Regions from separate parts of the Homo sapiens genome. Here regions 1, 2 and 4 are each linked to region 3. The links come from fine-mapping of genetic effects on gene expression. A gene starts in region 3. Each other region holds a variant in brackets. All regions are shown on one strand. Distances are from middle to middle.

What was found. PIP is the estimated chance that this variant, and not a neighbour inherited with it, causes the effect.
Region 1: its variant is fine-mapped to the expression of AP4E1 in monocytes (Quach 2016, PIP 0.95).
Region 2: its variant is fine-mapped to the expression of AP4E1 in whole blood (INTERVAL, PIP above 0.99).
Region 4: its variant is fine-mapped to the expression of AP4E1 in whole blood (INTERVAL, PIP 0.90).

What each region holds. Positions count from the first base shown.
Region 1 is chr15:51,078,566-51,086,706 of GRCh38, forward strand. The region is part of intron 1 of TNFAIP8L3 (TNF alpha induced protein 8 like 3); the gene reads right to left. All of the region lies in intron 1 of MIR4713HG (MIR4713 host gene), which reads left to right. Among named protein-coding and RNA genes, the nearest start is that of TNFAIP8L3, 12 kb to the right of the region's middle. RefSeq lists an enhancer at 368-527. The variant AT/A (reference allele first, on the strand shown) is at 3,479.
Region 2 is chr15:50,800,815-50,808,955 of GRCh38, forward strand. No RefSeq gene overlaps it. Among named protein-coding and RNA genes, the nearest start is that of SPPL2A, 39 kb to the left of the region's middle. The variant CTTG/C (reference allele first, on the strand shown) is at 3,609.
Region 3 is chr15:50,904,651-50,912,768 of GRCh38, forward strand. It overlaps AP4E1 (adaptor related protein complex 4 subunit epsilon 1), which reads left to right and starts at 4,033. Exons shown (of 21, transcript NM_007347.5): 1 at 4,033-4,278; 2 at 7,428-7,499. The coding sequence starts at 4,129. RefSeq lists enhancers at 3,626-4,367, 3,842-4,131, 4,152-4,321, 4,368-5,109.
Region 4 is chr15:50,984,029-50,992,028 of GRCh38, forward strand. It overlaps AP4E1 (adaptor related protein complex 4 subunit epsilon 1), which reads left to right. Exons shown (of 21, transcript NM_007347.5): 16 at 1-117. Among named protein-coding and RNA genes, the nearest start is that of MIR4713HG, 49 kb to the right of the region's middle. The variant C/T (reference allele first, on the strand shown) is at 4,504.

The sequences.
Region 1 (8,141 bases), 170 kb after region 3:
GATGCCACCCCTGTCCCATGGACTGACCCCTGCCCCGCATGTTCCCCAGTCCAGGGGACTCTCCCATCCATAACTGCTTGCCTGATCCCTCCCCCTCCACATTCAACATTTCTCTCAGCTCCTTTCTCCAACCCTCCTGAAGTCCTCTCCTTGTATGATACGTGACTCTGCCACCGGCCTGTGTCCAGACAAGAACCTGGGGACCATCCTTGCCTTATTTCTCTCCCTCACCTCCCATATCTAACGAGGCCTCCGACTGTCTATTCAGCTTCTGTAACATCTTTAAATGCACCTGCCTTCCTCTGCCTCTCTTTCGCTACCTCAGTACAGACCCTCATGGTTTCTTCCCCGAATGCTTGTCTGTCTCCTTGCTCATCTCTCTACCCCAGCTACTGTTCTATTTTCCACACCAGGCTGACAGCAGGCTTCGATGATGCTGCTCCTCTAGAAAAGGCCTTGAGGGGATTCCCATAACCTTCAAGACAGCCCAGACAACTCTTTAGCATGGCACACCAGGCCACTGAACTGACATCTGTCTTCTCTTCACCCTCTACAAACCCTAAGCTCCCAGCTCCAGGCCACAGGCAGGTCTCACCTGCACCAGGCCTGGGTCCCCTTGCACTTTTGCATTTTCTGTCCCTGTGCTGGGACACTGACCTCTTACTCTCTTCCCAGCCCAATTCCTGCTTAGCTTCCAGGGCTCCATTTGAATGACTTCTGACTTCTAGGCAATTTCTTTTTGCAATCACCTGCCCTGTCACTTATCACCTTGTGGAGCAATCAGTCATCCACTAGCTGGATGAGGAATTTTATCACCCACTGGTCTGTGAACTCCTTGAGGGCAGGGACCAAGGCTTATTTATCTGGGCAACTGTAGCTAGGGACTGAAACAGAGAATGTTCATTGCTTGAATGCATGGCTCTCACTCATGACATTTTATTGAAATGCATTCACACTCATGTCAGGAACAATAATGATAATGAGAGCTGGCATGTCCTCCAACCAGGGGCCTGAGACACTCTCACCTGGGAATGGTTGCCACATCACTCACCAGGTTGCTCTGTCACTTCTTTTCTTTTTATTAAGAAAATTATTTTCAAAGTAATACAGGGTACAATTATTTAAAAAGTCAAATCAGACTGAGCATGGTGGCTCATGCCTGTAATCTCAGCACTTTGGAGGCCAATGTGGGAGGTTCACTTGAGGCTAGGAGTTCGAGGCTGCAGTGAGCTATGATCATGCCACTGCACTCTGCACTCCAGCCTGGGTGACAGAGCAAGACTTTGTCTCAAAAAAAAAAAAAAAAAAAAAAAAGAAAGAAAGAAAAAAAAGAAAAGTCATTCCACAAGGGAGGCTTATAACATGATGTAGCATCCCCAGCACACCTCTGATGCTAGCTACTTACAGACAAAATAGTTTAAACTATTTTAGCTGTTTCAATGAATAATTACCTCTCTATATTTAAATTACATGCTTACACTGTTAATTCTTGATTTTATTTGCTTTTAACTGTCTACTACAGAAGGTGAAAACTTAGCTTTCTTTCCCATTCATTTCTCCTTCCACCTTCCAATTTGCTTCTCTTTCAACATTTGGTTAAATCAAACTTCAGCGATGACATTACTATGATTTAGCTATCATTCATAGCCAAGTCATGTAGTGTCCTATAACTTCCATGCCTGCATTTCCTTTCTTATTCATCTTGTTTTCCCAGGAGTTAAACACTATTTTTTAATCTCCTGGTTAGTTTTTTATCTGTCTAGTGCAAATTCATTCCTAAAGTTCGTAGCAGAATAGAAAGTTCTTCTCAATAGGTTCAAACACATCAACTAATCAACTGCTTCCACTTTTTTTTTTTCTTGGAGATATCTCTGGCAGCCCTCTGTCCCCCAACTCAAGTCTGGGCATGTTTCTCTTGATGCCTGACACACGTAGTCATCCTGGGTCCTCCCTTCACTCTTTACCCCTTCTCTCCTGTGTCCATCTCCTGTTTCTTGGATCTCACAACTCCTTTTTCTTAATTTGGTCCTCGGTTCAGTGGAGCACTTGGTCTAGCACAGACTTCGGCAAACCGCCTTAAAGAGCCACAGAGTAAAGGAGAAAAAGGCAAAATAGAGGATATTGTATAGGTACTTAAATAACCATGTAAAGTGTAAATAACCATGTAAGGTGTACTTAAAAATGGAAACACAAAAACAGGTGGCAGGCCAGATTTGGCCTGGGGGCCTCAGTTGGCTGCCGCCTGAGTAAGCAGCTATCTCAGGAAGAGGACATGATAAAGTCATTTTTTGGTATCTAACATATCATACAATGACTTTATTCCAACCACACCCTTGATGGATGGTTTGCCTTGGTCTAGAGCTCTATGTTGGAAATCATTTGCCTTGAGAATTCAAAGGCAGGGCATCATTGTTGTCTAAAGTTCAGTGTTGCTATTTAGAAAACTAGTATACATTGGTAAGGGCCTGTTTTTTTTCTCTCTGGAAGCTTTTAAGATTTTTGCTTCGTGACTTAACTCCAGGAATGGCCACAAGACTTGGCTTTTTCACTGCCTTAGTCCCTCTAACACTCAGGAGGGCTTGTGGGGGTGGGTGGGGGCCCAAGGCAGTGGAAACGGAGAGCAGCATCTGGGCCTGAGATGGGCTAGGGAAGGGAAGACATCTCAGGTGAGGCAGAGAGCTGGGACCAGGGAGATGGGGAGGACAGGGTGAAGTCAGGAGGAGATATTAAGCTTCTGGAGTGTGGACAAGATGGGTAGGGCCCATGGGGGGCCCAGCTTTTCTGGAAGTTTTAGATTCTTTGAGCTTAAAAGAGGCTACCCTCCAGGTGGAGGGGCTCAAGAAAGCTGGGGCAGCCATGACGGGACTCAGTGACTCATGAGAGAATGGACTTGTCCTACAGCACTCCTGTCATGTGCCCCATGACTCCCTGAACCACTGACCAGCTGCTCTTGGCCCTCACCTGGCCTTGATTCCACCTGTGTGCTGTCTTAGCACCAACCTCCACCCTCTTCACATGCTGCTCAGACCTCAGCCACTCTCATTGAGTGATGACAATTTGGCAGAGCTACTTTTTACATAGTTTGTTTTTTAACAACAACACAACAGAAAACAAAACAAAACACTAAGAATGGGTGGAAACAGGCCTCCTCATCCATTCCCTGAGTCTCGGCACATCACTGACCTCCCTCCCAGGATGAGGAGAAATCCTGGGTAGAGGTGGTTGGTAGCAGCCCTTGTGCTTACCACGCTTGCTGGTCTTAGGATGAGCTATCCATCATTTTGGGCACAATGCTCCCTTTGTCCAACAATTTGCTCCTGTCTCAATCATTCTCCCTCTCTTATTCCCTGATCTCTCCTTTTAAAATCACAGTGGTCATAGTCACTCACTTGCAAATAATAAGAAAAGATGGCTCCTTCATAAAGGCACTAAATAAGGGAACTTTCCTGCTTTCAACTTGAAAACTAAGAAAGAGTGA[AT/A]TTTTTTTTTTTTTTTTAATGAGGGGACTTTTCTGGAAGCGTGAAAAAGCATAGTCAACATAGAGTCATGAGTGACTTGATGGGGCTACGTTCTCAGAAATGCATTAGGGGATTTTGCCATTGGGTGAACATCATACGGTGTACTTATACAAACCTAGATGGTCAAGCCCACTACCACCTAGGCTATATGGTACAGCATTTTGCTCCTAGGCTACAAACTTGTACCGTATGTTACTGTACTGAATACTGTAGGCACCTGTAACACAATGGTATTTGTATATCTAAACATGTATAAGGTACAGTAAAAATGCAGTATAAAAGATAAAAAATGGTCTACTTCTCTAAGGCACTTAGCATGAATAGAGCTTGCAGGACTGGAAGTTGTTCCAGGTGAGTCAGTGAATGAGTGGAGAGTGAATGTGGAGGCCCAGGACATAACTGTACACTACTATAGACTTTATCAACACTGTACACCTAGGCTACATTAATCTTATAAAAAACATTTTTCTTTCTTCAGTGATAAATTACCCTTAGCTTACTGAAACTTTTTTACTTTATAAACTTTAAATTTTTAAAAACTTTTTGACTTTTGTTGTAACACTTAGCTTAAAACACAAGCACATTGTATAGCTGTACAAAAATTATTTTTTCCTTTATATCTTTATTCTATAAGCTTTTTTCTATTAATTTTTTTCTTTTACTTTTTAAACTTTTTTGTTAAAAACTAAGAAAAACACATACATTAGTCTCTGCCGACAAAGGGTCAAGATCGTCAAAACATCATCAGGTGCAAGGAATTTTTAGCTCCATTGTAAGCCTAGGGACTACTATCACGTCCAAAATATCATTATGCAGCACCTGACTGTATAATTTTATACCTGAAAAGGAGTAAGGATAAATCATTTTTCATAATATAAACCAAGAAAGTAAATAAAGATAGACAAAATCCTGGCTGATGGGGAATACCAACTATTAAGGGTGATTGGGGCTAATTTAAAACTGGGTTAAAAATTCTGTTAAATGTGAATCTAAATGGTGGGCACTTCCTTTTCTAGAAGCCTCCTGACTGGGCTACCTCTGCTTGGGAGGCTAGAGGGGAGTAAGGGATTCTGGGGCCACCGTATGATCTCTTATTTTTAGCTTCAAGATGCACAAGGAATCTTCAATTAAATTTCAGTCTAATTCCTTCAGAAATAGATTCACATTATATTTAATATCACACCACTCCTCAATAATAAATTTTTTTGGAACGATGGACTGACGGTGGTGGTGGCAGACCAATACCTCCTAAAAGCTAACAATCCCGTTACAACAGGCTTTTAAATGTCGTTGTATCCCCCTCTAATTTAAAAAGTAATAAAAACACAAAATTAGTATAGGTAAATGAAAATGTGGGAAGTGAATGTCACTCATATCTGGAATAGAGGTCAAGGACAGAGGAAGGGTTGCAGAGGGCATGTGGGTCAGAGCTGCCAAGTGGACCCCCTGCCAGCCAGCGAGCAGCAGCGACGCTGAGTTTCAAGAAAGCCAAGATGGCTGAGTCCACAGGCTCACCCACGGGTGCGTTTAGACTGGGATGCTGCAGTGTCCTTGGCCAGTCTGTAGGCCTCATATTTACAAGCTCTGACCCTGTTCATGGCATGGAGGCCCACAAAGGCTAGGCCAGGTGGGCTCAGAGCAGGAGGTGGTGATGGGGGTGGAGGCACCAGAGAAAGCAAGGGCTGAGGCTAGGGCAGGGGGTGAACAGGGCAGAAGGCTGGATCACCCCAGGCAGGGGGCTGGGCGGAGCCAGTGAGGGGGGCCACAGAGGACTGGAACACAGGGAATTGATGGAAGAGCAAATTTCAAGGGAGAGGACGGAGGGGCCTGGGACAAGCCTGCAGGAGGATGAGCTGGGGAACAGGCACTGCAGCTCACTTGGCTATTGTTTATAAAAGCAAATTACCAGCTGAAAGCTGCATGTACTCACTGAAGACAAATCTGGAAGACTACAAAGAAGACAATTAAAATTACCTATGCACTCATCACAGAGTGGTTTATTTTGCTCGAGCATTAACAAAAAATCTCAAGTGTTTACGTGTGTGACTGTGAGGGGAGATTTCTCCCCCTCTCCATATACAAAGGGGTAGATGTATAGGGGTGTGTGTGTGTGTGTGTGTATGCACATTTATGTATATACGTACATACAGAAAAACAGGGATCACAGATTATTGAGCCTTCTTTGACAATGTTATAATGTGAACATTTCCCTATATCATCAAATGTTCTTCAAATTAACTTTCCTTAACATCTGAATAATATCCCACTGTGTGGAAATGTCATTATGTATTTAATCATTCCATAAATATTTGACTGAATATTCAAGTTGTTTATTTAGGTTTGTTTCTGCCCCCGCCCTGGCCAGTTTTAAATAGCAAAAATCTGCCATTTACTTTGTGATTGGGATAATTTAATCTCTCTGCATCTGTTTCTTCATCTGTAAACTAGGAATGATAATACCTGCTTTATCCATGTCATGGTTTTGCTATGAGAACATGTGTGGAGGAGTTTTCACTGTTCTATGATTTCACAGTCTTTTAACTTCGAGTGACTCGGTGGCTGTCAAGGCCACCAGCAGAGTTGGGAAAAAGTGAGGGAAAGGTGATGGCCTGGAGTGGGTGTGTTGGGGTGTCTCCTAAACAGTGAGGAGGAGGGGTCCGGGGCCTTTAGAAGACAGGATTCTTGCTCAGGAAAGAAGACTGGGCTAGAGTACAACTTTGGGAGCCTTTAGCTTCCCAAAAGCTTACAGCTATTGTTATAAGAATGGATGGTCTTTTCTAATAAAGTATTTTGTCAGAAAAAAGCAAGGCAAGAGCTCCATCTTAAGGGACATAGTTAGGAAAAAGGTATTAATGAGGGATGCAGGAGGAGCAACTGAGAAGGTACAGAGAAACCAGGATTATACACAGAGAAGTTAGAAACAAAGAAAAATAGAGTCACAAAAATTCAGGTTTGATACCTACCAGATACTGCTGTGGGCTCTCTAAAAGTTGACCCTGTATAAATTTAGCTCTGCCTGCGTTGTTTGACTCAGCGAATTATGAAGTTAAATCCTAAAGGTAGAGAGACCAAACATGGATGAACAAACATGCCAGTTTCTTTACAATAAAAAAAAAAATCAATCTAAAGAAAGATAAAATGTAATTGGAGAACTAGTGGCCAATAAACTTTTCTTGAAGCTGGTAGCTATTTAAGCTCAAAGTAAATTAACCTTTGCAATTGTCACTGGGCATCTGTAAAACCTACCAAATGCCTCTCAAGTATTAAAAAAAAATGCATTAATCTTCTGAGGGCTTTGTGGAGGGCTCTTCTGACTAAGAAAGAGAAGTGGGCCTGACCCAAGGGAAGGAGGCCCCTGGGCAACGTGCTAGCGTGGGCCTGTGCTGGTCTGACCTGTGGCAAATGGGCCCAGGATGGAGAAACCTAAGAAAGGAAATGCAGGTGATGGGAGGGAGTGGCAAGAACACAGTAGAAGGTGTCAGAAGGAAAAACAGCAAAAGTCCTTTTGATATCTCAATACCTGGAATAGCTCCGATTCTTTTTTTTTTTTTTTTAATTACATGTTTTGGGGTAAACACAAAGAAGCCATGGGATCTGGCCTCCAGTTCTGGTTCTAACACTGCCTGACAGTGGAACAAAATGTTTTTAGCATCCCAGGTCAACATTTCAGAAACAGGACTCTCATTCTTTTTAAACCCTCCTCTCTCCCTAAATAAAGCTCTCACATCTTTTTCAAATTGCTTTTGGACCACCTTCTTGGAATAGTGCAGTCTTCTCTTAGGGCTCAATCTAATTTTCTTCCTTGTACTGTTTTCACATATTCTACCATGAGCTTGCACTTTTTTGGTCAGAAAATAATGTTACTGACAAGCAATAACTAAGCGACAATGCTTGAAACACAGACCTGAGTCATCCAGCTCTGAATGTCAAGTTCTTTTCACTATGTTGCACTCTCACCTTTTGAATTTTCTCTCCTCAAGTCCTGCTGGTCACCATGTCCTGGGGATTGTATATCTGAAATGATTCTAAATGCTGGGGTGAAAAAAAGGGCTTAGGACCCAGCTTAAGCACACTTTGAAAAAGGGTGTATTTGACTTTGGTATCTCTCTTAACTCTGCTTTTCAAACCTTCTTCTCTCCTCTCTCACCAGGCCCATGTGATCCAGAAGAAGCCCACGGCTGGAGCGTCCTTCTAGGGCCTTCTGCCTAGCAGTGGCTTTGTGCTAACTCTCCCATCTTCCCTCACAGATCGCCCTTTACCATCCCCTGATCTGGATCTGGAGTCAGCCAGTCCTTCCCCATTTTGTTTATAGGCTAATGCAGGGAATGTCTGCAGCTTAAAGCAGGCCTTTGTGGAGGCAGAATGCCCTCACCTAACAGAGGGAGCCTAAGGGTTAGGGTTCTGGGAACCGTGGGAGCTGTGTGGGGGATGCAAGACAGCCTGGTGGCATCCGTGAATCTAATTACGTAGTCTACCTGGTGCAAGAGAAGAGTCTCTGGAGTTAGACTGGCTTCATTTCTACTGACAAGCTGTGCAACCCTGAGCAGGTTACTTAACCTCTCTGTGTTTGGTTTTCTGTTCTATAAATTGGGGCTATTTATAGTACATAGCCCAGAAGGCTGG
Region 2 (8,141 bases), 100 kb before region 3:
TTTCTAATTTAGGTTTGCATCTAGGATGGGAGAGAGGCAGGTACTACATTAAATGTGGGCACAACCAGTAAACAGAACTGCACCATGAAGGATTGGAAAGTCATAAATAGAGAAAGTCTAGAGCCCCAAAGCTGTGGGTGAAACAGAAGTGGTTTCAGATACAGGACCCAAGAAACTGAGTTTTTAATAGATAGGGGCTCCATCAGAAAGTAGGATGTCATTTCCTTATGATGATAGTAAGCAAGAGAACCTGGCAGGCAAGACCTAGCCAGTAGTCTGGGCCTAGCAGACAGTCCACAGGTGCTAAAATAATTTAGTAAATAAACAGAGTATTCTAGATTCATCTGACAAGTTAGATACAAATAAGTATCATATAGTGTTCAGCACAAAGAAAACGTGCCTGGCAGTGGTGAGCACCTGTAGCCCCAGCTACTTAGGAGGCTGAGGTGGGAGGATCACTTGAACCCAGGAGTTTGGGTCCAGCCTGGGCAACATAGTGAGACCCTGTCTCTAAAATAAAATAAAATAATAAAATAAAATAAAGTACCTGACACTGACACCTAATATGTGGTAGCACAAAACCAGGAGCTTGGCCGGGAGCAGTGGCTCATGCCTGTAATCCCAGTACTTTGGGAGGCTGGGGTGGGTGGATCACCTCAGGTCAGGAGTTTGAGACCAGCCTGGCCAACATGGCAAAATACTGTCTCTACTAAAAATACAAAAATTAGCAGGGTGTGGTGGCGGGTGCCTGTAATCCCAGCTACTCGGGAGGCTGAGGCAGGAAAATCGCTTGAGGCTGGGAGGTGGAGGTTGCGGTGAGCCGAGATCACACCACTGCATTCCAGCCTGGGCGACAGAGTGAGACTCTGTCTCAAAAAAACAAAAAAACAAACAACAACAAAAAACAGGAGCTTACACATGTGGCAGGCAAGAGTTTGGTCCCTCACACTGGGAGCAAGAATTCATTAATCCAATAAAAGTATATTGGGGCCAGGCACGGTAGCTCGTACCTGTAATCCCAGCACTTTGGGAGGCCGAGGCAGGCAGATCACTTGAGGTCAGGAGTTCGAGACCAGCCTGGCCAACATGGTGAAACTCCGTTTCTACTAAAAATAAAAAAATTAGTTGAGTGTGGTGGCGCATACCTATAATCCCAGCTACTTGGGAGGTTGAGGCAGGAGAATTGCTTCAACCCCAGGAGGTGGAAGTTGCAGTGAGCCAAAATCATGCCACTGCACTCTAGCCTGGGCAACAGAGCGAGACTCTGCTTCAAAAAAAAAAAAAAAAAAAGTATATTGGGGCCAGACGTGGTAGCTCATGCCTGTAATCCCAGAACTTTAGGAGGCTGAGGCAGGAGGATCGCTTGAGGCCAGGAGTTCAACACCAAACTGGGCAACATGCTGAGACCCTGTCTCTAAAAAAACGGAAAGAAAGAAAGAAAAAAAGTATATTGGTACTGTTCTAAGTGCTATGGAGGGAGAAAGCAGTGAACAGGACAGACAAAAGTCTTTGCCCATTTTTATTCTAAATGAAGTTAAATCTGGCTCTGTACCACATTGGTCAAGGGAGATGGGAAATCTGGGTTTTGTCATGTTTACTTTGAGGAGGGGGGCATTTCCTAGGGTATCTTCACCTTCCCAGGGTCCTACACATTCCAGAATATTCAGAGGTGAGCCCTCTGGTCTTCAGACCACACTGGCTACCACTGCTGGGTGTTGATCCTAGTCCTGTGGTTTCTTGGCTGGCCCACTTCTAATATTTTCAGGGTCTAGGATGAGAATACAAATGGAAGTTTATATTAAATATTTGAAAGTTATAAATCAGGCCAGGTGCGGTGGCTCACACCTGTAATCCCAGCACTTTGGGAGGCCGAGGAGGGCGGATCACGAGGTCAGGAGATCGAGACCATCCTGGCTAAAGTGGTGAAACCCCGTCTCTACTAAAAATACAAAAAATTAGCCAGGCGTGGTGGCAGGCGCCTGTAGTCCCAGCTACTGGGGAGGCTGAGGCAGGAGAATGGCGTGAACCCGGGAGGCGGAGCTTGCAGTGAGCCGCGATTGCGCCACTGCACTCCAGCGTGGGCGACAGAGCAAAACTCCGCCTCAAAAAAAAAAAAAAAAAAGAAAGTTATAAATCAAGCTGACAACCTCTTAAATAGGTTCTGTCATTCTGTCTTGACAAATATATTTTCATAACAAGCTGGAAGTCCTTGTTCAAATTTAGAATTTGAGGACTTCTTGGGCTTCTGCATCTGAATGTGCAGGTGTAAGAAAAGCTGGCCCTAGGCCCTAGCTTTGGCCTCTGATGATATTGTGATTAATAATAAGAAATATATATTGGGTCTTCTTCCTTTTCCTACACAGAGCTTCATTTCCTGGGTGATTGCAGTGTTTTGTTCTAATGAGGCATCTCTCAGTGGCCCCTAGATAGCTTAAGGATGGGGGCTGGTTGCAGAGGAACCATCCAGGTGATTACAGGGTTGGAACATTCAGCCCCATCCCCTGACCTCCAGGCAGGAGAGAAGGCTAAACATTGAGTTGATACCAATGGCCAGTGATTTATTCAGTCATGCCTATATAATGAGGCCTCTATAAAGACTCAGGAGAACAGTATTCAGAGAGCTTCCAGGCTGGGGAATGTGTGGACATGCTGGGAGGGCAGTATACCCAGAGAGGGTATGGAAGCTGCATGCCCCTCACCACATACTTTGCCCTATGCATCTCTTTTGTTTGGCTGTTCCTGAGTTGTATCTTTTATGATAGATGGGTAAATGTAAGTAAAGTGTTTCCCTGAGTTCTGTGAGCCATTCTAGCAAATGATTGAGCCTAAGGAGGAGGTCATAAGAACCTCTGGTTTATAGACAGTCTGCCAGAAGCACAGGTGGCAACCTGGACTTGTGATTGGTAGTTGATGTGGGGGCAGTCTTGTGGGACTGAGCCCTTAATCTTTGGAATCTGTACTGACTCCCACTAGATAGTGTCAGAAGTGAGTTTAATTCCCAGTTGGTGTCCATAGAGAATTGGAGAGTGGCTTAGTATGGGAACAAAACCCCACACATCTGGTGACAGACATGATGTATTGAGAGTGGTGTGAGGATAGAAAAAAATAGTTTGTTTTTCCTGTATATTTGGCGTTTTTTCCTTCTTACACTTCCCCTCTTTCACTTCCCATCCCAGCTCTGTTCAGGACAATAAAGGAACTTGCATGCATGTGTGTGTAGACCAGCTTACACATCCAAGCTCTGTTCACCAATCCCCATTCCTGCCAAAAAGTCACCTTTTAACTGTCCTTCATGTGAAGGCGTGTACACAGAGGCATGGCTGCCTTCAGGAATGTAAATCCTGGAAAGAGACTGGCTCAGGACCTGGAAATAGTTCAGGCCATTTGGGCTGGGAATTCTGGGGTCCCATTTAGATGAAGCACGGTCTACAAGGGTGAGGTGTGGGCTCCAGGTGGACATGCCCCTTGTGGACCTCTTCTCCCATAAAGAGGGGCACAATCCCATGGAGGGCCAGAGTAGGGCTCTCTAAAGTGTGGGACCCAGGACAAGAGCTCATCTCTCCTAGGTGTACAGGTGGTTCTGTCCTTGTGGATAGGTGATTCCTCTA[CTTG/C]TTTTTTTTTTTTTTTTTTTGAGACGAAGTCTCACCCTGTTGCCCAGATTGGAGCGCAGTGTTGCAATCTTGGCTCACTGCAACCTCTGCCTCCTGGGTCCAAGCGATTCTCTTGCCTCAGCCTCCCAAGTAGCTGGGATTACAGGTGTGCACCACCATGCCTGGCTAATTTTTTGTGTCTTTAGTAGAGACAGGGTTTCACCATGTTGGCCAGGCTGGTCTCGATCTCCTGACCTCGTGATCTGCCCTCCTCAGCCTCCCAAAGTGCTGGGATTACAGGCTTGAGCCACCATGCCTGGCGATTCCTCTACTTTTGAGCACAGGTTGAGCCAGAGGTGTATACTAAAATTGGAAGACTTGAAGTCTAGTGACCAACCCTTCTTGCCCCCTGCAGTGCGGCACACTGCCAAGTCAGCTATCACGATCAGAGGCCTTGGACCCAAGTACTGTGTGGGAGCACACATGTCCCTGATTTTCTTGAAACCTATAAGCACTTTCTCCTAAACTTGGGGAGATAGTCCCCAAATAACTTTATTTCCAGTATTGGTCTACTTCTTCTCCCAACCCTTGGTGCCTCCTGCCACCTCCAATAATCCAGCAATATCACCTCCAAGACTAGATAGAAGGTTGTATTCTAAGTGTCAGGCAACTTTTAATTTTGGCCCTGCGACATTAGGGCTATTAACCATTCCCTGAAGCAGAGGGCTACTTTCTTCAGATGAGTGAGGCAAAAATACCTACAGCAGCCTGAGCAAAACACAGATTAACATCTCAGTTCCCCCCCAACAGATACATATTATCTCATTCATTTCTTTTTTTCATTTTCTTTTTATTTTTGAGATGAAGTCTCACTCTGTCGTCTAGGCTGGAGTGCAATGGCACGATCTCGGCTCACTGCAATCTTTGCCTCCTGCGTTCAAGTGATTCTCCTGCCTCAGTCTCCCAAGTAGCTGGGATTACAGGCATGCACCACTACACCTGGCTAATTTTTTTTTTTGAGACAAAGTTTTGCTCTTGTTGCCCAGGCTGGAGCACAATGGTGCGATCTCGGCTCACTGCAACCTCTGCCTCCTGAGTTCAAGCAATTCTCCCGCCTCAGCCTCCTGAGTAGCTGGGATTACAGGTGCCTGCCACCACCCCTGGCTAATTTTTGTATTTATTTTAGCAGAGATGGAGTTTCACCATGTTGGCCAGGTTGGTCTTGAACTCCTGATCTCAGATGATCCACCTGCCTCGGCCTCCCAAAGTGCTGGGATTACAGGCATGAGCCACCATGCCTGGCCTAATTTTTGTTTTTTGTTTTTGTTTGTTTTTTGAGATGGAGTCTCACTCTGTTGCCCAGGCTGGAGTGCGATGGCATGATCTTGGCTCACTGCAACCTCCGCTTCCTGGGTTCAAGCGATTCTCCTGCCTCAGCCTCCAGAGTAGCTGGGACTACAGGTATACGCCACCACGCCCAGCTAATTTTTTTGTACTTTTAGTAGAGACAGGGTTTCATCATATTGGCCAGGCTGGTCTCAAATTCCTGATCTCAAGTGATCCGCCCGCCTTGGCCTCCCAAAGTGCTGGGATTACAGGCGTGAGCCACCGCGCTTGGCCCATTCATTTATTCATAACGGTTTTGTTAAGGAAATTAAACTGAAGCTCAGGAAGATCAAACAACTTGCTTAAGGCCATAAAATAAGGAGAAGAACTAGAATTCATTTCCAGAGCTGTCTTACTTCAAGGCTTGTGCTCTTTTCACCATCCACCAGCATCTACCACATCTAAGAGTTTTAAAGACATTTTATTTTTGTTTTATTTATTTATTTATTTAAGATGAAGTCTTGCTCTGTCGTCCAGGCTGGAGTGCAGTGGCGCAATCTCGGCTCACCACAACCTCTGCCTTCCAGGTTCAAGCGATTCTGCTCTCTCAGCCTCCTGAGTAGCTGGGATTACAGTCACAAGCCACTGCACCCGGCTTATTTTTTGTATTTATAGTAGAGACAGGGTTTCACCATGTCGGCCAGGCTGGTCTTGAACTCTCAACCTCAGGTAATCCACCCACCTCGGCTCCCAAAGTGCTAGGATTACTGGCGTGAGCCACAACGCCCAGCCAATAAATTTTAAAAATCAAATTTGTGAAATTGCTGGCCAAAGGGTGTTATGTAAGTATTCCATTCATTAGAATAGATCCTGAGATTTGTTTTTGAGAATCCAAAGTATTACAAGGGATATAGTAAGAGGGGAATTGGAGCCATTAGGGGATGCATTTCTATAAAGTGATCATGCAGCATTTTATTGAAATGTGGACTGTATGCTGGACAGCACTAAGGGATTAGCGAACTCATTTTGCATTATTTAATTCCAAAAAGCCACTAAGATGCTCATCAGAAAAGCACTGTCAAAAGTGGAAATAGATAAATGTCATCTGTAAATAAATTAGAATTGATTGTGAAATATTTGGTCAGGGCCGGGTGCAGTGGCTCACACCTGTAATCCCAGCACTTTGGGAGGTTGAGGCAGGCAGATCACAAGGTCAGGAGTTCAAGACCAGCCTGACCAACATGGTGAAACCCCGTCTCTACTAAAAATACAAAAATTAGCCAGGCGTGGCAGCGTGTGCCTGTAATCCCAGCTACTTTGGGAGGCTGAGGCAGGAGAATTGCTTGAATCCGGGAGGTGGAGGTTGCAGTGAGCCAAGATTGCACCACTGCACTCCAGCCTGGGTGACAGAGTAAGACTGTCTCAAAAAAAAAAAAAAAGAAAAGAAAAGAAAAAGAAATATTTAAATATTTGGTCAGTTCTTATTGTTTGTTGTCCTTCCTTTTCTTCCTTCCTTCCTTCCTTCCTTCCTTCCTTCCTTCCTTCCTTCCTTCCTCCCTCCCTCCCTCCCTCCCTTCCTCTCTCTCTCTTTCGAGACAGGATCTCACTCTGTCACACAGGCTGGAGTGCAGTGGTGCAATCTCGGCTCACTGCAGCCTCCACCTCCTGGGTTCAAGCAATTCTTGTGCGTCAGGCTCCCGAGTGACTGGGATTACAGGTGTGCGCTGCCACATGCGGCTAATTTTTGTATTTTTAGTACAGACGGAGTTTCACCATGTTGGCCAGGCTGGTCTCAAACTGCTGACCTCAAGTGATCTGCCTGCCTCGGCCTCCCAAAGTGCTGTTTCTTTATTCCTATCATCCTGCTCAGGGCAGAATGTGTCCTTCTAAAATGTAGGGCAGAAAGACTCCTGAGGTCTGGTTTTGTTGATGGTTTATATTGCTTGTTGTGAGTTCCAAAGATACACATCCTGAGGGAATAACAAAGACTTATTAAACTGTAACATTTAAAATCATGGAACACAAAGCTTTTTTTTTTCATTACTTTTATGCTACAACCCAGACACTATTAAGTACAGATCCTAATTGCCTCACTAATTTAAGAAGAGAATGAGGAGTAAGATAGGGAAGGGGGAAAGAAGCCAAGCAAAGGTACAATTTCAGATGATGTCTGGCCTCAGCCTGATCCTGTGGAGAGCTCTGGAGCATAAGTCATACCTTCAGGCTTATCTAGCTTTGAGGCAAATAAGTTTTGCTTTCATACTCAGACACTACTCAGGCAATGGCTATGGTTCCCTTGGGACAATTCTGGGTTTCGGGGAATAATAGTGAAGTGGATTGATTGAAAGGAAACCAAACAGAAAGTGGGAGATGGGCCCCAGAGCTAATAAAAAAAGGATCAGAGAAGCTGTGGGTGATGCACTGACAGTATCAGCTATGCCAGAGACCATCTATTCTATAGGTTAATGCTTTCACTGTAGGTCTGACTCTTTCAATCAACAGGCAAAAGCTTCATTAGCAACAAGTAGTTGTAGAGGAAGAGACTCTCAGGGCTTTGAACTGTTTAGAGTAGCCTAAGGAATTCAAACATTTTCCTACCCAAGATTCCAGGGGAATCAGAGTAGCAGGAATATGATCATATCTCCTAATACAGTGTCAAAAAACCTTTTAGGCAATTGATCGCTAAGTACAGACCGTCCCCTACTTATGATGGTTTGACTTCCGATTTTTCAACTTTATGATGGTACGAAACCACTACAATTTTGAAGTAATGTACAGTATTCAATAAATTACTTGAGATAGTCAACACTTTATGATAAAATAGGCTTTGTGTTAGATGATTTTGCCTGACTACAGGCTAATGTAAATGTTCAGAGAACGTTTAAAGTAGGCCAGGCTAAGCTGTGGTGTTCAGTAGGTTAGGTGTATTAAATGCATTTTCAACTCGAGGTATTTCAACTTGGATGGGTTTAGCAGGTGGTAACCCCAAGGTAAGTCAAGTAGCATCTGTAAATGTCATGCTACCAGCACTTTAGGAAAGGTAAAACATTTATCAGACTCAGACAGTCCTTATAAGCTTACACTATAGCCAGGTAGATGAGATTCACATGCATGAAACAAGTATGAGCAACACTGGACACGACATAATTAAAGACTGTTGAATTCTGAAAAAAGAGGAATAGACTCCTGTTGGGTACACTCAGAGACTTACAGTATAAGTGGTGA
Region 3 (8,118 bases):
ACTGTAACCTCTGCCTCCCAGGTTCAAGTGATTCTCCAGCCTCAGCCTCCCGAATAACTGGGATTACAGGCATGTACCACCATGCCCAGCTAATTTTTTTTTTTTGTATTTTTAGTAGAGACAGGGTTTCACCATATTGGCCAGGTTGGTCTCAAACTCCTGATCTCAAGTTATCCGCCTGCCTTGGCCTCCCAAAATTCAGGGATTACAGGCATGAGCCACCTCGCCTGGCCTGCAACTAAATGTCTAATTTGGTGAGTTATTGCATCTTTGGAAAGTAGCACTCCCATGAGTTCTTTTACTGATTATCAGCTAGCAGGCATTCATTAGTCTTTTAGCTATTGCATGTCCTTCTCCTATCAATGAAATATAATAATTTCATGTGTAAGATGCTTCAGTAGGTTTTTCATTTTTACTTTGAAAATGGTAATACAAAAGCTTTGGCTTTTATAAAGCATATCATCTCTATGTTGAAAGTATTAAATTCCCTTTCTTTTAAATTCTGACTGGTCTGAAAATGATGCCTCAACTTGATTGGCACCATAATAGTATTTGAAAATGTTCTGTTGAATGACATAAAATAAGGCAAGTGATTAACATCTCTAATGCCAAGGGAAAGAAAGAAGCTTTTGTCATACTTTCCTTTGTTATTTATAGTTTCGACCAGATTTCTCCCTTTCCCTGAGTCAGTGAATTCTGATACTGATGTCAGCTTCATCTTTTTCGGCATCTTTACAGACGGGAAGGTTAGAAAGCGAATCTTCTAGTATCCCCTTTTTAAGCCAATGGAAGAACCTAAAATTAAAAAACTATACATAAAACAAAATTTAATTTAAAGATAAAATATTAAATTCCTTTTTTTTTTGGAGACAGAGTCTTGCTCTGTCACCCAGGCTGGAGTACAGTGGTGCGATCTTGGCTCACTGCAACCTTCGCCTCCTAGGTTCAAGCAATTCTCCTGCCTCAGCTTCCCAAGTAGTTGGGACTACAGGTGTGCCACCATGCCCGGCTAAATTTTTTGTATTTTTTTTTTTTTGAGGTGGAGTCTTGCTCTGTCGCCCACGCTGGAGTGCAGTGGTGAAATCTCGGCTCACTGCAACCTCCGCCTCCCGGGTCCCAGCAATTCTCCTGCCTCAGCCTCCCGAGTAGCTGGGATTACGGGCGCACGCCACCATGCCCGGCTAATTTCTGTATTTTTTTAGTAGAGTCATAGGTTGGCCAGGCTGGTCTTGATATCCTGACCTTGTGGTCTGTGCACCTTGGCCTCCCAAAGTGCTGTGATTACAGGTGGGAGCCACCGTGCCTGTCCGAATATTTTGTATTTTTAGTAGAGACGGGGTTTCACCATGTTGGCCAGGTTGGTCTGGAACTCCTGAGCTCAGACAATCTGCCCGCCTTGGCCTCCCAAAGTGCTAGAATATAGGCATAAACCACCGCGCCCGGACGACAAAATATTAAATTCTAGGCAGGGCGTGGTGGCTCACACCTGTAATCCCAGCACTTTGAGTGGCTGAGGCGGGCAGATCATGAGGTCAGGAGACCGAGGCCATCCTGGCCAACGTGGTGAAACCACATCTCTACTAAAAATACAAAAAATTAGCCGGGTGTGGTGGCACGCACCTGTAATCCCAGCTACTCGGGAGGCTGAGGCAGGAGAACTGCTTGAACCTGGGAGGCGGAGGTTGCAGTGGGCCGAGATCACACCACTGCACTCCATCCTGGGCAACAGAGCGAGACACCATCTCAAAAAATAATAATAAAATAACAAAATTAAATTCTAAAAGAGTATCCCTTTCTGGCTGGGCGCAGTGGCTCGCGCTTGTAATCCCAGCACTTTGGGAGGCTGAGGTGGGCGGATCACCTGAGGTCAGGAGTTCGAGACCAGCCTGGCCAAAATGGTGAAACTCTGTGTTTACTAAAAATACAAAAATTAGCCGGGCATGGTGGCGGGCGCCTGTAATCCCAGCTACTCGGGAGGCTGAGGCAGGAGAATTGCTTGAACCCAGGGGGAGGAGGCTGCAGTGAACCCAGATTGTGCCACTGCATTCCAGTCTGGGTGATAGAGCGAGACTCTGAAAAAAAAAAAATTAAATGAATAAATGAGTATCCCTTTTAGATAAAGTTTAAATATTTTAAAATGTTCTCAATATATTAAAAAATATTCTTGCGAGACAAGCCAACAAATTGAACTTTTTTCTTATGTTCCCATATAGGTATTAAAACAACTTCAGGATTTCAAAAAAACTCATTTATTAGGTGACAAGGAGGTTACAGAGATTAGAGCAGGTATAACCGAAGATAGCTTGTAAGTGTAGCTGTAGCTGGTGGGCCGGTTGAGGTTCTGGACTTCGCGGTGCAAAATAATTTTGAAGTCCAAAGTAAAAGCAAGCAAAAGAGTTTATTGCAAAGCGAAAGTACACCCTCACAGCTGATCAGAGCGGGCTGCTCAAAGGTGAGACAGCATGCACTGACACTGGGGAAACTCCCTTTGTAGGAGTCTCACAGGATCATTCATGAAGCGGGGAGAACGGGTGCTGCTATTAAGCACGTTCTCTGGTTTTCTGTCGCCATGTGCGCTGTGGTTGTATATGCTAGTACATACACTGCATGTCTTATTAGTATCTTAAATCTTCACCCAGGAGTGGTGTTTTTTTTTTTTTTTTTTTTTTACTATTATAATGAGTATAATTCAGCCCAACGACACTGATCATGGGTTTCTGCGCTTGTGAGAGTTTGGGGATTTTCCCTTCTGCTCTCGTACCTCTTTGCTGCAAAATTTTCTAACCAGGAGCCTCGGATGTGGTTTGTACACTATGGGCTGGTTTGTTCTATTTATTTAGCAAGTTTGTTCCCCTTGAAGGGAGGCTATCACCACCTACCTAACCTACCTCCTAGAAACACACTAGGAGTACTGAGAGCAAATTGCATTAATCTCTGAAAACGCACGTATTTATGCCCTAAACCTACTACCTTAGAAAATTCTAGAAAACACAAGGATACTCCAGGATACATTTTACCAGCTAGTCAATCGTCATCTAGCCGCTTGAAAACTCTGTACATTTCCAACAGAATGAGGGTAAAAACGGCAAATAACACGTAAGAAACGTTATCAATGTTGTTTTGACTTTGTGAATTCCCTAGAAGGGTCTCAGCGACCCTGAGGTCACCAGACCACATTTCGAGAGCCATTGTACCAGACTCTGTTCTAGATAAAAGACGGAGCAATCGGAATGAATAAAATACTCTCTCTATGGGGAGCTGTTTACGTAGTGGCAACTGCGACCTGTTCTAAAGTGGAACAGAACCGAGCGCTGTGAGAGGGTGGGACTTGGAGACCTATCCTTGCCCGCCGGGCCAGGGGAGTGGGCTCTAGAAGGATGACCTTTCAACTGCGACCTGCTGAGGAGGAGTCGGCAAGGGTGGCCGCCGACCAGTTCTCTTTCCCGCCCACCTCCCCAAATCCCAGGAGAAGAGGGGCGGACGGGAAGCGACAGTGGCCGCGAGTCCCCGGCACGCGACGGGCTCTCAACCTGGCACGCCGAATCCTCAGGACAGCCCCGCTATCACGCAACTACTCGGGTGTCCCAAGAGTCGCCAGGGCCGGAGCCGCGCGCGGCGCCGGGGACCCGCGTGAAACCGCCTGTGGGAAGCGGGCGGGTGGCGCGCGCTCCGGGGACAGTGAGAGGCGGCGGACGGCGCGGGGACGTCCCGAAAAAGGCGCAGCCAGGAAGACGCAACTCCTGACGCGGTCTCGGGCTACGCGGAGGCGGCTAGTGGGAAAGGGGGACTCTGGGAGACAGTGCCTAACAGGGCCAGGCCCCCGACGGCTTCCTCAGGAGGACTCACGGTTCTGGGGGATTCCGGAACCGCTACCCCGTCGCGAGAAAGGAGGTCTACTTACGCGCGCAATCTCGAGCGAGCGGCCTTTTCCACCCCCGCGGTCTCTTGCGCCCTCTGGTGGCCTCTCGCGAGAACGACGCTGAACTTGTTCAGGTGGGACGCCAATAAAGATTTCTTATTCAAAAAACAGGAAGTGCCTACGGAGGCCGGGCCGGCAGCGGCGGCCGGGCATGAAGCCGGGCGGCTACGGGATCGCGGGCGGCGGCGGCATCGCGGGCGGCGGCGGCGATGAGCGACATAGTGGAGAAGACGCTGACGGCGCTGCCGGGACTCTTTCTGCAGAACCAGCCCGGTGGTGGGCCCGCGGCCGCCAAGGCGTCCTTCTCCTCGAGGCTGGGCAGCCTTGTCCGCGGCATCACAGCCCTCACCTCCAAGCACGTAGGTGCCCGCCGGCCCGGGAGCTCAGGGACATCGGAGTGAGGCCCCCGCGCCAGGAGGCCCTGGCCGGGCGGCGAGACTTCAGGGCCTCTGGGGTTAGCCCTCCGGCGGGGCTCAGGGGCTGCTGTGTCGGTTCGTCCTTTCGTCTGCCTGGAAGCTTCACTTTCCTGCTGGGACTGACAGCAGGGAAGCCGAGTTTCCACAGTTAGTTCTGACACTGACTCTTTGATCGGGGGCACATCTCTGTAACCTCTGAGCCTCCGTGTGTTTTCTCAACGTTGTGGTGGAAAAGTACTGATACATAATTCATAGGTTTTTTGTTTGTTTTGAGGATTGGGTGAGATGTCAAGCGTGTGAAAATACCTAGTGCGATGGAAGTGTCAGACATTATTTACCTTCCACAAAGTTTTTTTTCCCTACTCAGTTTCCTTCTCTCCCCCGGTGCCTTCAACTGAACAACAGTTCAGATGTCGCATACCTGAAGAGATCCTGTGAGCCTCTTGTTGAATATCTTTGGGGAGCTTGAGGTTCTTGGGTTACAACAACGTGTTGGGCAAAGAAAAAGCACAGTTCTCTCAAAATGTAAAATTTGCTAAGTCTCTGCCTCAAGTGGGCTTTGAAAATGAGCAGTTATAAAAATTCTTAAACTTTTAAAATTTTTAAATTTTTATTGACGGAGTCTCTCTCTGTCGCCCAGGCTGGAGTGCAATGGTGCGATCTCGATCTCGGCTCGCTGGAGCCTTAAGGTTTTAAAAATTTTAATTTTTGTTTTTTTTTGAGACGGAGTCTCGCTCTGTCGCGCAGGCTGGAGTGCAGTGGCGCGATCTGGGCTCACTACAAGCTCCGCCTTCCGGGTTCACGCCATTCTCCTGCCTCAGCTTCCCGAGTAGCTGGGACTACAAGTGCCCGCCACTGCCTGGCTAATTTTTTGTACTTTTCGTAGAGACGGGGTTTCACCGTGTTAGCGAGGATGGTCTCGATCTCCTGACCTCGCGATCCGCCCGCCTTGGCGTCCCAAAGTGTTGGGATTACGTGCGTGAGCTACCCTGCCCGGCCTTAAAATTTTTAAATTTTTAATGACGGAGTCTCGCTCTGTCGCCCAGGCTGGAGTGCGATGGTGCGATCTTGGCTCACTGGAGCGTCTGCCTCCCGGGTTCAAGCGATTCTCCTGCCTCAGCCTCCCAAGTAGCTGGGATTATAGGCGTATGCCACTACGCCCGGCTAATTTTTGTATTTTTAGTAGAGACAGGATTTCACCATGTTGGGCAGGCTGGTCTTGAACTGACCTCAAGTGTTCGCTCACTTCGGCCTCCCAAAGTGCTGGGATTACAGGCATGAGCCACCGCGCCGGGCCCCCACAGGCGCTCGATGGTTGCACGGATTGTGTAGTATACCGATTCACAGCTACAAGGAGTTTATATCTTAAAAAGAGCACGTGTTAATGTCATTATTTGTTCAACAGATGTTTATGGAACAAGGTTATGTGTTAGACACAGGAAAATAGAATTAAACACATTCCCTTTTCCCAAGGAATTAGTCATTCGTTTTGGGCTTAAGACAAGTATAAGCATGACTACAATGCAATAGAAGTGCTAAAAGAGAAGGAAAGACAGAAAAGAAAGTGCTCTGAAGGTTTAAAAAAAATATTTTTTTGGCAGCTCTAATAAGTTGATGCTATCCGGAGAGAACCTGCTTCACATTCCAGAATCATTACTTGTGGGCTTGTCTTGTTTTGTTTTGTTTTTGAGATGGAGTCTCACTCTGTCGCCCAGGCTGGAATGCAGTGGTGCAATCTTGGCTCACTGCAACTTCTGCTTCCTGGGTTCAAGTGATTCTTCTGCCTCAGCCTCCCTGGTAGCTGGGATTACAGGCACACGTCACCATACCCGGCTAATTTTTATATTTTTAGTAGAGACAGGGTTTCGCCATGTTGGCCAGGCTGGTCTTGAACTCCTGACCTCAGGTAATCCACCTGCCTTGGCCTTGGCCTCCCAAAGTGCTGGGATTACAGGCGTGAGCCACCACGCCTGGCCATTTGTGGCCTTAATAATGTTGTTTTTCTTAAGGTTTTTGTCCTTTGCTAATTTTTAAGGGATCCTCAATAAAATTTTTTAAAAAGTTATTTTTGGTCTTAAATAGCAGTTTGAAACTGTAGATAGGCATCCACGTGTATCAGTACGTCACTAGTGGCTTTTGAATAGCCATCTGATGAACATGTAATTCAGTGTGTAATTTAAAGGTAGCATGATATTAGCCAAAAAAAAATGGGGCCAATTTTTTAAGTGCTTAGGGAGATAACATACAATGCAGACAGTAGGAGTGACCACATTGGTATGTGTCTGAGATAGGAAGTTATGGAAAGGATTTGGGGAATGAGGAAAAGACAGGGAAGAAGAATGTAGTTTAAGGGAAAAAGACCTATTTCTGTTTCTGCTTTCTTACCCTGTTTCTTAATTCCATGAAGACTTTTTACTTCTAAGGGGAAGATGTGAGATGAGACTCTTTTCTTGGGCCAATACATGGAGAATTTCTACTCTCTCTCCACCTTTAATTTTTTTTTTTTTTTTTTTTTTAGATGGAGTCTTGCTCTGTTACCCAGGCTGGAGTGCAGTGGTACGATCTCGGCTCACTGCAACATTCACTTCCCGGGTTCAAGCGATTCTCCTGCCCCTGCCTCAGCCTCTCGAGTATCTGGGATTACAGGACCCCCAGCTAATGTTTGTATTTTTAGTAGGGACGGGGTTTTGCCATGTTGGCCAGGCTGGTCTCAAACTGCTGACCTCAAGTGATTCACTCGCCTTGGCCTCCCAAAGTGCTGGGATTACAGGCATGAGCTGTTGTGCCCGGCTTCCACCTTTAGTTTTAAAAAAAAACATTTTCTGCTATTCTACCATTAAGGGGAAGTAACTGAGTAAAGAAAAGAGGAAGGATGGGTTAGCCTGGAAATATTTATTCTCTCCAGGGATGGTTCTGAGGTTTGGAGAAATGCCTTTAGATAGATCGTAAGCAGATAGTATTTGTAACTCTCCTTTAAAATAATGTTTCTTTTAAATTAAAAGTATTGTAAATTATATTTTTCCGTTTAGATAAATGCTGTTACAGTTTTAAAAGACAGTTAATCAAGCATTTAAATATTTTCACTTTCTCAGGAAGAAGAAAAATTAATCCAGCAGGAACTGAGTAGTCTGAAAGCGACTGTTTCTGCTCCTACTACAACACTGGTAGGTTTGCATAGTCAGTGCCAACACATTTGAATTTGAAATCTAGTCACTGTGGACTCAATAGTGGCATCTAACTGATGATCGGTTGCTAAAATTTGATTTATCATAGTCAAAATGAATTATAGTTGGTAGCAACTCAGATGTTAACTTTAGCCTTTTATTGTTGACTGGTTTGCACCAGAACAAGATTTGCCTATGTGAAGTCAGGGCTAATGTGATGATGATTACATAAATGTGGAGATACTCTTGGGACCCTAGTGCTGATCTGATGTTTTTAATGTTATGCATTTGGAAAAGGTTGGGATTTCAACATGATATTTTCAGACCTGAATTAATATATTGTAGGTATATCTAATTTTATTATTTAAGACCTAGTTGTTTTTAAAGTTTGTTCTACATAATCTGATTTTTCAAACAATATTCAGCAACTATTTAATGAATGGTCATTCATTATTATGCAGGCCACTGTGGGGCTGTCCCAGCATAGCTAGATTAAAACTCAGTTTGATTTTTTTTTTTTTTTTTTGAGACGGAGTCTCGCTCTGTTGCCCAAGCTGGAGTGCAGTGGCGTGGCGTGATCTCAGCTCACTGCAACCTCTGCCTCCTGGATTCAACCGAT
Region 4 (8,000 bases), 79 kb after region 3:
TTTTGAACCATATGGACTCTCCTTTTCTTCATCTGGCTTCACTGGACGACAGTCTCCTGCTGGCATTTCTCTTGGTTCAGATGTATCTGGGAATAGTGCTGAGACAGGACTGAAAGAGTAAGTTCATTTCTTATTAAAATTGAGGTTATGGGAGTGCTTAAATGTCTTTTAGCGTTCCATTTGCCTTCTGCTCCTGCCTCATATCATCATGGTCATTATTTGCTTATTTTAGGATAACTTTCAAGAGGTCTATTGTTTCAGTGGTTTTCACATAATTTTCTTTTTTTTTAATTATACTTTAAGTTCTAGGGTACAGGTTCACAACGTGCAGGTTTGTTACATATGTATACATGTGTGCCATGTTGGTGTGCTGCACCCATTAACTCGTCATTTACATTAGGTATATCTCCTAATACTATCCCTTCCCCCTCCCCCCACCCCACAACAGGCCCTGGTGTGTGATGTTCCCCTTCCTGTGTCCAAGTGTTCTCAATGTTCAATTCCCACCTATGAGTGAGAACATGCAGTGTTTGGTTTTTTGTCCTTGCGATAGTTTGCTGAGAATGATGGTTTCCAGCTTCATCCGTGTCCCTACAAAGGACATGAACTCATCCTTTTTTATGGCTGCATAGTATTCCATGGTGTATATGTGCCACATTTTCTTAATCCAGTCTATCATTGATGGACATTTGGGTTGGTTCCAAGTCTTTGCTATTGTGAATAGTGCCGCAGTAAACATACGTGTGCATGTGTCTTTATAGCAGCATGATTTATACTCCTTTGGGTATATACCCAGTAATGGGATTGCTGGGTCAAATGGTATTTCTAGTTCTAGATCCTTGAGGAATCACCACACTGTCTTCCACAATGGTTGAACTAGTTTACAGTCCCACCAACAGTGTAAAAGTGTTCCTATTTCTCCACATCCTCTCCAGCACCTGTTGTTTCCTGACTTTTTAATGATCACCATTCTAACTGGTGTGAGATGGTATCTCATTGTGGTTTTGATTTGCATTCCTCTGATAGCCAGTGATGACGAGCATTTTTTCATGTGTGTTTTGGCTGCATAAATGTCTTCTTTTGAGAAGTGTCTGTTCATATCCTTCACCCACTTTTTGATGGGGTTGTTTGTTTTTTTTCTTGTAAATTTGTTTGAGTTCTTTGTAGATTCTGGATATTAGCCCTTTGTCAGATGAGTAGATTGCAAAAATTTTTTCCCATTCTGTAGGTTGCCTGTTCACTCTGATGTTAGTTTCTTTTGCTGTGCAGAAGCTCTTTCGTTTAATTAGATCCCATTTGTCAATTTTGGCTTTTGTTGCCATTGCTTTTGGTGTTTTAGACATGAAGTCTTTGCCCATGCCTACGTCCTGAATGGTATTGCCTAGGTTTTCTTCTAGGATTTTTATGGTTTTAGGTCTAACATTTAAGTCTTTAATCCCATCTTGAATTAATTTTTGTATAAGGTGTAAGGAAGGGATCCAGTTTCAGCTTTCTACATGTGGCTAGCCAGTTTTCCCAGCACCATTTATTAAATAGGGAATCCTTTCCCCATTTCTTGTTTTTGTCAGGTTTGTCAAAGATCAGATGGTTGTAGATGTGTGGTATTATTTCTGAGGGCTCTGTTCTGTTCCATTGGTCTATATCTCTGTTTTGGTACCAGTACCATGCTGTTTTGGTTACTGTAGTCTTGTAGTGTAGCTTGAAGTCAGGTAGAGTGATGCCTCCAGCTTTGTTCTTTTGGCTTAGGATTGACTTGGCAATGCGGGCTCTTTTTTGATTCCATATGAACTTTAAAGTAGTTTTTTCCAATTCTGTGAAGACAGTCATTGGTAGCTTGATGGGGATGGCATTGAATCTATAAATTACCTTGGGCAATATGGCCATTTTCACAATATTGATTCTTCCTACCCATGAGCATGGAATGTTCTTCCATTTGTTTGTATCCTCATTTATTTCTTTGAGCAGTGGTTTGTAGTTCTGCTTGAAGAGGTCCTTCACATTGCTTGTAAGTTGGATTCCTAGGTATTTTATTCTCTTTGAAGCAATTGTGAATGGGAGTTCACTCATGATTTGGCTCTCTGTCTGTTATTGGTGTATAAGAATGCTTGTGATTTTTGCACATTGATTTTGTATCCTGAGACTTTGCTGAAGTTGCTTATCAGCTTAAGGAGATTTTGGGCTGAGACTGTGGGGTTTTCTAGATATACAATCATGTCATCTGCAAACAGGGACAATTTGACTTCCTCTTTTCCTGATTGAATACCTTTTATTTCTTTCTCCTGCCTGATTGCCCTGGCCAGAACTTCCAACACTGTGTTGAATAGGAGTGGTGAGAGAGGGCATCCCTGTCTTGTGCCACTTTTCAAAGGGAATGCTTCCAGTTTTTGCCCATTCAGTATGATATTGGCTGTGGGTTTGTCATAAATAGCTCTTATTATTTTGAGATACGTCCCATCAATACCTAATTTATTGAGAGTTTTTAGCATGAAGCGCTGTTGAATTTTGTCAAAGGCCTTTTCTGCATCTATTGAGATAATCATGTGGTTTTTGTCTTTGGTTCTGTTTATATGCTGGATTACGTTTATTGATTTGTGTATATTGAACCAGCCTTGCATCCCAGGGATGAAGCCCACTTGATCATGGTGGATAATCTTTTTGATGTGCTGCTGGATTTGGTTTGCCAGTATTTTATTGAGGATTTTTGCATCGATGTTCATCAGGGATATTGGTCTAAAATTCTCTTTTTTGGTTGTGTCTCTGCTAGGCTTTGGTATCAGGATGATGCTGGCCTCATAAAATGAGTTAGGGAGGATTCCCTCTTTTTCTATTGATTGGAATAGTTTCAGAAGGAATGGTACTAGCTCCTCCTTGTACCTCTGGTAGAATTCAGCTGTGAATCCGTCTGGTCCTGGACTTTTTTTGGTTGGTAAGCTATTAATTATTGCCTCAATTTCAGAGCCTGTTATTGGTCTACTCAGAGATTCAACTTCTTCCTGGTTTAGCCTTGGGAGGCTGTATGTGTCCAGGAATTTATCCATTTCTTCTAGATTTTCTAGTTTATTTGCGTAGAGGTGTTTATAGTATTCTCTGATGATAGTTTGTATTTCTGTGGGATCGGTGGTGATATCCCCTTTATCATTTTTTATTGCATCTATTTGATTCTTCTCTTTTTTTATTAGTCTTGCTAGCGGTCTATCAATTTTGTTGATCTTTTCAAAAAACCAGCTCCTGGATTCACTGATTTTTTGAAGGGTTTTTTGTGTCTCTATTTCCTTCAGCTCTGCTCTGATCTTAGTTATTTCTTGCCTTCTGCCAGCTTTTGAATGTGTTTGCTCTTGCTTCTCTAGTTCTTTTAATTGTGATGTTAGGGTGTCAATTTTAGATCTTTCCTGCTTTCTCTTGTGGGCATTTAGTGCTATAAATTTCCCTCTACACACTACTTTAAATGTGTCCCAGAGATTCTGGTATGTTGTGTCTTTGTTCTTATTGGTTTCAAAGAACATCTTTATTTCTGCCTTCATTTCGTTATGTACCCAGTAGTCATTCAGGAGCAGATTGTTCAGTTTCCATGTAGTTGAGCGGTTTTGAGTGAGTTTCTTAATCCTGAGTTCTAGTTTGATTGCACTGTGATCTGAGAGACAGTTTGTTATAATTTCTGTTTTTACATTTGCTGAGGAGTGCTTTACTTCCAACTAGGTTTTCACATAATTTTCAAAGGGAGAGACACACTTGTGACAATGTGTTTTAATATAATGGTTTAGAAAGGTTTTTAAAAGCTAAATTGTATGGGCTGTTGTTTCAGTGGTTTCTATTTATTGCTCTTAAGGTATTTATATTGTACAGTATGTTCTTTAAGAGCTTATCTACCTTCCAAGACAGCATAAAATATGTACAAGCTTTATACGTAGTAATAATATGTGTTATTGCTACATATTATATATATATATTTAGAAGCATATTAGAATTTATACATCCAGGCTGATGTTTAACATATCATTCTACATTCCTCATTCTTCTGATAAATATATCTTGTAACCGTCTCATTGGAACATTGATAGATATAGAGGTGAACATAAAATAAGGTGATTGATTTCACCTGAGGAAGCCATATAGTTGGTCACCCAGTGAAGGCCAGATGCCCCTAAACTTATGATGGGGTTACATTCTGATAAACCCATTATAAATTGAAAATATCGTAAGTCAGAAGTGATCTACCAAACAGCAGATGTATGTCTAGAACTCAGTTCTGCTGATCATTGGCCCATTATTGTTTATTATTTTATTTTATTGTTATTATTTTTTTGAGACACAATTTCACTCTTATTGCCTAGGCTGGAGTGCAGTGGCATGATCTCGATTCACTGCAACCTCTGCCTTCTGGGCTCAGGCAATTCTCCTGCCTCAGCCTTCCGAGTAGCTGGGATTACAGGCTCCTGCCACCATACCCGGCTAATTTTTTGTATTTTTAGTAGAGATGGGTTTCACCATGTTGGCCAGGCTGGT[C/T]TCAAACTACTGGCCTCAAGTGCTCCACCCACCTCGGCCTCCCAAAGTGCTGGGATTACAAGTATGAGCCACCGTGCCCAGCCTATTTATTATTGTATTAGCTCATTATTATCTCTGCATTGCAAGAGAATATCCTATCACATATTGCTAGCCTGGGAAAAGATAAAAGTTCAAAATTTGAAGTATGGTTTCTGTGAAACTCTATTGCTTTCACACCGTTGTAAAGCCAAAAAATCATTAAATTGAACTATTGTAAGTCAGGGACCATCCGTAGTCACCTATGGAAGCTGTATACTTTGCTGAAAATGCTTTCAGAGTTACTTTCCAGCCACCTTGAAAATTGGTGAGCATTTGCTAAAATGTCTTATTTGGAGCCGAATTTCATCCTTGTTAGGTATACTTTGATTTTGGAAACATAATTAGTTACCTTTAGAAACATAATTAAGTGAATAAAATGAGATGACATTTGTAAGTACATAGTACAGCCCAGTTCATAGTAAGTGATTGATAAATGGTAGTTGCTGTTATTAATAATGATTGTCATTACCATCATTGTCTTCATTACCCAAGAGGTGAGTTTACCAGATAATATTTGTGATCAATCTGTATAATTTTGATCAATATTCTGATGCGACAGTAAAGTAAGGAAATGGCTTTCTTGTTTGGGAAGAAGCTGCATCTAATAGAGTTAAAAATGTTTTAAGTAATGGCCGCATTGTTGGAATAAATGTGATAAAATCTCAAAAGTGACAACTTTAAAGGATGACATTTGAATTTTGAGTTCTTCTGTATTTATTAAGAAATCAGTCATCTTATTTTATGTTCATCCTTACATTTGTCTGTTGTTCAATGAAATGGTTACAAGTATTTATCAGAAGAAAGATACTAATAATAGATCATGAGGAATGTAGAATATGTTGAATGAAATGGCATGAGTTCAAATTCTTTTTCTTATCTTTTTTTTTTTTCCTGCTCTGTTAACCTCCTTATTTTCTTTCCCAGATATTTAATTTTGATACTCCAAGCATGGGGAGCAAATATTGTTTGTGGGCATTTGATGATGGAGGTGACAGCAATTAAGTGTCCCAAACAGGGACCAAAGGGACAAGGGAAAGAGACAGGAACCCTTCAAACCCAGGGAGGAACTTACACACTTTTACCTGCACAACAGGTGACAGCATCTACTACTATAGTACTGAACTAGGATCTGGGGGGTGTGACAGGGCCTTGTAAATGCCATACATATACATCTACTACCCTCAGAGAAATGACATTTGGCAAAACTGCTAAGGAATTATATAATATATCCTGCAGTATTGTGAAATGGAAGATAAGGGATGAATTTAAAATTTGTTTCCAAAGAGGACCTCAGCTCACACATTATTTCAGAAGAGGAACATAGTAATTGGCAAGGTGAATCATCTTAGAGGGAAGACAGTTGCTCTTTTACAGTCCCTGGCAACCTGAGAATAAAGTAGTAGCAAGTCTAATTTATAATTTCTTAACTGGCAGCACCCTATCTCAAATGGGAATTCCTAGAGCTGAGTTAAAGTACATCCCTAGTCTTTTGAAGGTTAGTTACTTGGTCAGAATTTACATCTATGTTTGAATGGTCTGAATAAAAACAATACAAGGGCACACCGTAGAAAACCATGTATTATATAATAGTATTGTCAAAATCCGGGCAAAGATGACTCATGTTTAAAAATATTATTTTTCTAATGTTTCATATAATTAAGAAGCATATTTTTTATATGAAATGGCCTTATGTTGCTTTCTTATGTATTTTCCCATTTTTTATTATTTATTTAATTTATTATTATTATTATTATTATTATTATTATTTGAGACAAGTCTCATTCTGTCACCCAGACTGGAGTGCAGTGACATGATCTTGGCTCACTGCATCCTCCGCTTCCTGGGTTCTAGTGGGTTCTCCCAGGTTCTCATGCCTCAGACTTTGAATGTGGAGTACACATTCAAAGCCGGGATTACAGACGCCTGCCACCATGCCCTGCTAATTTTTATGTTTTTAGTAGAGGCAGTGTTTTGCCAAGTTGGCCAGGCTGGTTTTGAACTCCTGGGCTCAAGTGATCCGCCTGCCTCAGCGTCAGTGCTGGCATTACAGGTGTGAGCTACTGCACCTGGCCATATTTTCCCACTTTTTAGATGGTCTGTATGTATGCTTAACAGAATATTTGTGTCGATCATAAGTATGTATGCAGATGAAATAAATAAGAAAATAAGAAAAATCTTTAAAATAGTTTGAGGCTCCTTTTAGGCTCCTTTTGTACCTCCTGCCCCTTTTTGCCAGTTGTGGATTGAGTTCCCTGGGAAGCACATTCTGTGATGGCATTTAGTATGCAGAATAATTAGGAGTGTCGTTGGGATCAACATCTATAGAAGGAAGGAAAAAGAAGCAGGTTTGGGCAGAAGTTAAGATGCAATGCATTGCCGGTGACAACCTCTGCTGACCCCATGGGGAGCTCTGGAGCTGGAATGACCCTTCAGAGTTGTGCTGAGTTGGACCGAGATGGATGGCAAGGACTTTATACTTCCATTCATCCATCACTGGATGTAGGCTGCCTTGGAAGGGGTGTGATCTTGCGTGAAGTAGCCCTCTGCAGCTCAGGCAATCCCTGAAGGGGCTGAGAGATGACAGCATTCCCAACAGCTGGTCAACAGTCCTTCATTGAAGAGAGATCCGGATGGAGCAGCCCATTGTCCTCCACATCGGCCTTTTGTTGTTGTTGTTAAACTACTATTTAAATCATGGATTAGTAAAATTTAGGGACTTGTTCTCTCTTTTTTTGTAAATAAAGGTAATATTTTGGTTAAAGGGAGTATACAGATACTATAATACTATTGTGGGTATTCATGAATTCCCTAGAGGTGCTTCTTTTGAGAATTCTATTCTAGAAATGGTAGGAGTTATTTTAGTGGTTCCCATGACCACTTGGGATCTGCTTATGGCAAGTACAACCAATTTTTGTCTAAGAGGTTTATTATATAACTTTTTTTTTTCTTTAGAAAACTCTTTTAGAACCTGGAGGAAGAAAGGGGGAAATGAAGATATTTGTAAAGGGATACTCAGCAGTAAAAATCATTGAGAAGGAATGAACCAATTCCCTTTAGGGCATTTTTTATTAACATTCAGATTTTCCTGTAGCTACTTACTTCTTAATAGCATTAATTCTTCACTCAGTATGAAGTGTAATTACCTGTTTTTGTTTTGTTTTGGGCTCAAAATCACATTGATCATGATTCCAACAATTTCAATACTAATAATAATTAGTAGAAATATTTCTGAGTCTTCCTTTTTGTTCATTTCATGATCAACTCATCTTGTAGTAGAAATGATTTTTTAAAAATGCCATTTTGGACCATGACAGAGATGCTTAAATAAGTCAAGTGCCAAGGACACATAGTTCTTTTTTTTTTTTTTTTTTAACTCCAGTGTTATTGAGATATAATTGCCAAATAAACATTGTATATTT